Linked DNA regions of Homo sapiens: region 1 is linked to region 2. The links come from fine-mapping of genetic effects on gene expression. A gene starts in region 2. The other region holds a variant in brackets. All regions are shown on one strand. Distances are between the middles of the regions. Region 1 overlaps SYT6 (synaptotagmin 6). Region 2 holds the start of OLFML3 (olfactomedin like 3).

Region 1 (2,912 bases), 150 kb before region 2:
TGGCAGGAGACAAAGGCTGTAACTGGGGCCATAAATATGTGCTGTGCTTGGTAATGCTAATGGATTCGGCCATCTTCCTGCCTTACCAGGTCCCTACTAGTTTAGAGTATGCGTGTGTGTGTGTGCATGTGTGTTGTTTTTGGACTAGGATAGAGTGTGTGTGTGCATGCATGTGTATGTGCGTGGGCATGCATTTGTGTGTGTGTGTGTTTTAGGGGTGATGAAGTGTTCCATATACTTCCAGAGAGCCTGGACTGAGGGTATGCAGGGAGGAAGGGAGGCCTTAAATGGTAGAATAGCCTCTGGCTTGGAAATGAGCAGAGTTGTGCAGAAGGAGTGCAGGCTTTATTGTCAACCCAACCTGAATTGCATTCTAGCTTCCTTACTTTCTAGCTTTAAAACCTTGGGACATTATCTAAACTGTGCCTCAGGTTTGACATCAGCAAGATGGGGATTAATAATGGCTTCTAGTCCTATTGTTATTATATGTAGTAAATGAAACAGAGTACACAGCCACCCAGGACAGCACTGTCACAGAGCAGCTTGCTGAGCCCTATTCCTCTGGTGCCCTTCCTGCTGGCTTAGCCCATGTGTCACTTCTGTACCACTCCCAGGCCTGACCTTCCCCTTCAGTCCAGGTCATCTGTTCTGACTGGTTGTTGGACATTATTATTCATTTTTTATTTCTTGTCTTGGCTATGCCATGTGTTTTCTGTGTGACCTTGAAAAAGTGACTTTCCATCTCTGGGCTGCATTTTCCTCAGTATTAAACCATCTCTAGAATCCTGTAATTCTCAGCTTCTCCCATGGAGAAGTTCTTGGCTCTCATGCTTTCACAGAACAGAGCTACCCATTCTCCGGGAGTGTGGTCTCCACAGCAGAGGCCGAAACCCCACAGTGATAAGCCACTGGGCAGAATTTCCAGACATCCCCACTCTTTCCTTAAATATCAAAGAGTCAGGCCTCTCTTCAAGCCCGTGGGGAATGTCCTCTAGGAGGTTTCTGCCACAGGGGAGGCCCCATCAACAACCCTTCCTCCTCTTTTTCCCATGAGCCACATTCCTATGCTGGCACTCAGCTCCCTCCCTTCCATCTCCTTTCTGATCCCCATTTACTGGGATGCGCTGGTCATTACTTATTGAGCTCCTGCTAGCTGCCAAGGGCACAACCTGCTTTGCCATGTTTCATCCTCACCACAACACTTATGGTCATCCCCCATATGTAAATAAACAAACGAAGGTTTGAGGTTAGGTGACTTACCCATTGTCACCCAAACAGAAATAATAAAGCCAAGATTTGAACTCATGATCCTTGCACCGCCAGAGGGAAGCATGGTTACATTGTTTCTTG[G/C]GACAGAAAATAAACACTGAAATTGTGCAGCTCATCAGGGGATCCAGAAGAGTGTTTTGTTCTGTTTTTTCTTTGTGGACTTGTTAGGTTCTCTCACTCATCTCAAAATCTGGTCATTTCTGGGAGTGGGTTTGGTGCTGACATTGGATTCCTTTACCCTTTCCCCCATTTCCTTTCTGTGAGCAGTGGGTTTGACATTGTTTCTTTTTAGTTTAATAGCTATTCATTGAATGCTGACTATGTGCCGGTCAGTGCATCATTGGGCACTTGTTGAATGCAGAGCCATGGGCTGGGCTATGGAAAGGAAGGTAAAGCAAGAGCCCTCCATATCAGGGTGCCCAGGCTGACAAGGACTGTAGGGGATGCCCTGTGCCCCCAAGTCCCCAAGCCCCTCATACACAAGGCACACACCTGGGGACAGACCAGTTCAGGATGCTTACAACACAATTATGCAAGCTGCTGCACTGCAAGAGATGTGCAGAAGTGTTAGGAGACATGAAGAAAAGAAATCAGAGTCAGATGAGATTGCTCTAGAAAAGCTGCTTCTAGAAAAGAAAAGTTTTAGGCCAGGCTATGTTGATGACAGTGAAGGACAGAGCATGATAAAAGAGGAAGTCAGAGGAGGGCGAGTATGTTCCTCTGTTCTCTTTGGACTTGGGGAAGGATCTAGAGAGATTTTCTCTCACATAAGATTGGGTTTCTTTTCTTTGTATAATAACTACTTGCAGAGTAATTACTATGTACCAGGCACCAGGCTGGGAATATGACTTCAACTCCAGTCCTGCCCTCAAGACCTCGCAGTCTGATGGGGGAGGCAGGAAACCAGTTCTGCTGTCTTGGGGACATGCAGGTCCCTCACTGGCCCAGCATGTTGGGGGAAGGCAGGCCTCCTGAAATGAAATTGCTTGCTTGCTTGAAAAAAATTTCAGTTGCATCCTCTTCTCACGCCCACACACTCAAGTCGAATGAGATCCCAGAGTGGCCACAAAAGGCTTTTTCAAGTAGAGCCAAAGAATCAGCTAATTGATCCACTGTGACTCATTAAATCACCCGGGGGTGAAGCCTCCCAAAGCCTCATTGACTAGCAGTTTGAGACAACGCCTTCGAAGTGTCCATCTTGGATCTCAGGTTTCTAGGTCTGTCCTGGGCAGGAGTAAGAGGTAAGCATATTGAATCTTCATCCACTAAGCAGGTCTTCAACGAGCCCTCAAAGAACATACTTGGGTCCTAGAACAACTAACTGGGTATTGAAGGGGCAAACATAGTCCTTGCTTTCAAGGAACTCACAGTTGAACAGAGGTTTCAGAGCAAGTAAAAAGCTAATGAAAGGAACACAATTATTTACATTACATTAAAAGGAAAAAGGGGAGATGGAGGTGAGTATTGAAGCGAGGAGAGTGAGTGAGTGGGATGAGGGATACAGATGGCAGAAGGAGAATTCAGGAACAAGAACCGAGCTTTGGGGAACGCCCACAGCCAGGATGAAGGAGAAAGAGGGTCAGGCAGCAAAGAGCACCTAGCAGGAGGAGATCAAGAGAAAGGAAAAAGAGGAAGTCAAAGGA
Region 2 (2,912 bases):
CTCTCCTTAATAGACCTGGCATTACAGAGGTTTCCCTAAAACAGATTCCAGAAGACAGAGCCACAATGGACTGGGACAAAGCGAAAAAAAGAGTAAGAAGCAAGGAAGGAAGAATATCGGTTCTGAGAAGAGTTAGGGGCCTGCTTTCAGATTATTTACCTGTCACCATATCGTACTTCTCATTCCTTCTTCCCTTGCCTTTGGTCCCAGGGCCTCCAGTCACCTTCTCATCAAACTCTACACAGGGCAGAGCTGGGTTCTGGGTCTCCAGATAGTCTACCTCCCGCTCCAGACGATCCACTCTCCCGGAGATGGTGTCGGCCTCAGTTCTGAGTGCCTCCCGCTCCTTCTCTGCCACCTCCAGCAGTGGCAGCATCTTGTTCTTGAAGTCCCGCAGCTCAGCAGCATGCCGACTACTCTGGTCCTGGCACTGGGCCAGCCGTTCCTGAAGGGATGGGGGATCAGGAGGGAGGCTGCAGGGTTACAACTCCCAGGCAGGGAGAGGCCCAACTCGGGAGTCAGGAATGGGAAAAAAAGAGCAAACTCAGCCAGGCTTCAATATCCCCTTCCACTCCTGCAGAAAAGGAAACCAGATGTGCAGAGGTGCTAAATGTGCAAAGAGCCTAGCTGAGATTCACCTAGGCCCCTACCCCGACTCCATGTCCTCCAGCCTGTGTTCTCTGTGAGCAGTGCCACTGAGCCATCTGAGCCTCTAGGCAGGTCTAAGCGCATGAAGGTGTGAAGAGGTCTCTGCTCCCTTAGCAATTATCCTCTCGGACACTAAAATGCTACGGATCTCAACCTGTTAAAAAGACAGGAAGTTATAGATTCCCCGGGAACCTCCAACTTCAACAGAATCATCACCTTCTCTGGAGATGCAGCCCCACAATTTTGGCTCTCGTTTCCACTCTGCCCCCTTATTCTATCTAATCCCAGAGGTAAAACGCAAAAGTCGATTTGCTTTGGAATTGTTCTATGTGGGGTAAGAGGAGGGCTTGTCATTCCGAAGGTCCTCTTATTAAGAGAGAATTTTCTGTAGACTCTAACAGAGCCCTTTCTTGTTATCCCCAGATCCCTAACAAACTGGTTGAACCAATAGCCCTGGAATCCTTCTAGGCGGGGCTAGAAGAGAAAGGGGTCCCTCACCTCTAAAGCAGCTAGTCGGCGTTCCATGTACTCCACAAGGTGGTGCTGCTGTCCTTGGAGGGGTCCCGACCATGACAAAAGGAACAAGATGAGGAGAGGGGTGCTGGGCCCCATGGCAGCCTGGAGAGTGGTGCCAGAGTAGAAGGAACGTACAGTCAGCCTCTTCCCCTCAAGCCCGAGGGTTAGCTTTGGAGGCGGGGTGGGGGCGGTGCCTTCTCTCCTGATCTCTGGGTCTCTCTCACTACTCTGGAATGCTTTCAGTTCTCTTTACAACCCCCACCCCCTCCTTTCCGCCAGGATTGATCAAACACAGATGGCCCCATTGCACAGCAGCCAGAAGCCTTAACCACCTCCCGCCTAGGCTGTAGGGTCCTCTGGAGGGGAAAGAGATGGAAACCCGAAAGCAGAGGCCTTCTAGGCAGTCAAGCAGGGAAGCTAGCTGCAGAAAGCAGAGACCCCAGAGAAAACTCAGCAAACGCCATTCCTGTTTTAGGAAAGTTTCACCAGTGCTGACTTAAGAAACTGACATTTTTCATTAATCTTTCCCTTTCCCTGCAATAGAGTGGGTTTTCAGCCTTGTTCAGTAGAAGCTGGGAGCTGGGGAGGTGAGGCTTGAAGGGAGGAAGCAGGAAAACAATGGCCCAAGTGGTCAAGCCCAACTTATTCTAAAGCTCATTGGCGCCACCTTGTGCTAAGCAGCTGGTGTCATCTCTCATGATAATACAGAAACTAAGGCTTAGACTTCACCCCATGAGGAAAATTTTCCACAAAAGCCAAATATATTGAATTTACAGGGGTTTTCACCACTGAAATGCATATTTCCCCCAAGACTATCCAATTACTACTTTGGGGGCTATGCAAATATCTGATTTAGCCCAAGGAAGAAAATATAACTGAGATTAAAAAAAAAAAAAAAACAGGTCACTGAGAAGTTAGTAAATTAACTCGATCGTCTGGAAGTTAAGGCTGACAGCAGCGCTGTTTTACATGGCTTTCCTTTGCTTGAAAGAGGCCAGATATAGTCTCTCACCAAAACTGAGGAGTGTTCAGTGAGTTCACACTAATTTACTATACATTCATGTATTGCGGGGGGGCGGAATCTGATATATATATATATGTTGTTGCAGTCTAGATCAATGTATTCTGACTTCCTTACCACTGGGAGAAAAGACTATTGGTTATTTCTCTTGGTTGTGGTCCAAAAGGGTATTTCTGAGTGTTTCTCATTTCTATATCCCAACTAAGGCTGCAGGAGCCCAAAATGAATTAATGGCCACCATAAGGTAGACTTGGGCCATAAGGTAGACACACGGGCCGAAAAAAAAAATCAAATAGAGCATTTACTCAGAGACCTGCAGTCATTAATCGAAACAAACCCCTATTTCTTTATCGGGAGAAATTCTATTCACTTTAGAATCAACAGAATCTGATGAGAGGTTCCTTCTGTAAAAAGGACCATGACTCTAACAGTACAGTTTGAAAGGAGGGGAAAAATAGCAGCTTCCTGTGGTTACTCATCTTTTCATTCTGCTACTGCTATCTGGCAAAACATATGAGGAAACAAAGCTTAATTAGCCGGTCTCAGAAGTCTTCTACCTCTTTCAAAGGGTCAGATCCAGATGATGTGAAGTAAGGACCCTGGACACTGCATTCTTGGGAAGTATTCCCTGCCAAACCCTATTCATTTCCAGTATGGAGATTTGTGTGAAGAATGAAATTGTCTCTAGTACTCTACTGATGTTCAAATACAATATGCTTAGCCACTT

What was found. PIP is the estimated chance that this variant, and not a neighbour inherited with it, causes the effect.
Region 1: its variant is the best candidate, but not a certain one, in a credible set for the expression of OLFML3 in whole blood (TOPMed, PIP 0.62).

The regions. Positions count from the first base shown.
Region 1 is chr1:114,130,403-114,133,314 of GRCh38, reverse strand. The region is part of intron 3 of SYT6 (synaptotagmin 6); the gene reads left to right. Among named protein-coding and RNA genes, the nearest start is that of SYT6, 22 kb to the left of the region's middle. The variant G/C (reference allele first, on the strand shown) is at 1,351.
Region 2 is chr1:113,977,865-113,980,776 of GRCh38, reverse strand. OLFML3 (olfactomedin like 3) reads right to left here and starts at 1,303. Exons shown (of 3, transcript NM_020190.5): 1 at 1,147-1,303; 2 at 160-445. The coding sequence starts at 1,260. HIPK1 (homeodomain interacting protein kinase 1) reads right to left here. Exons shown (of 16, transcript NM_198268.3): 16 at 2,908-2,912. RefSeq lists an enhancer at 1,226-2,059.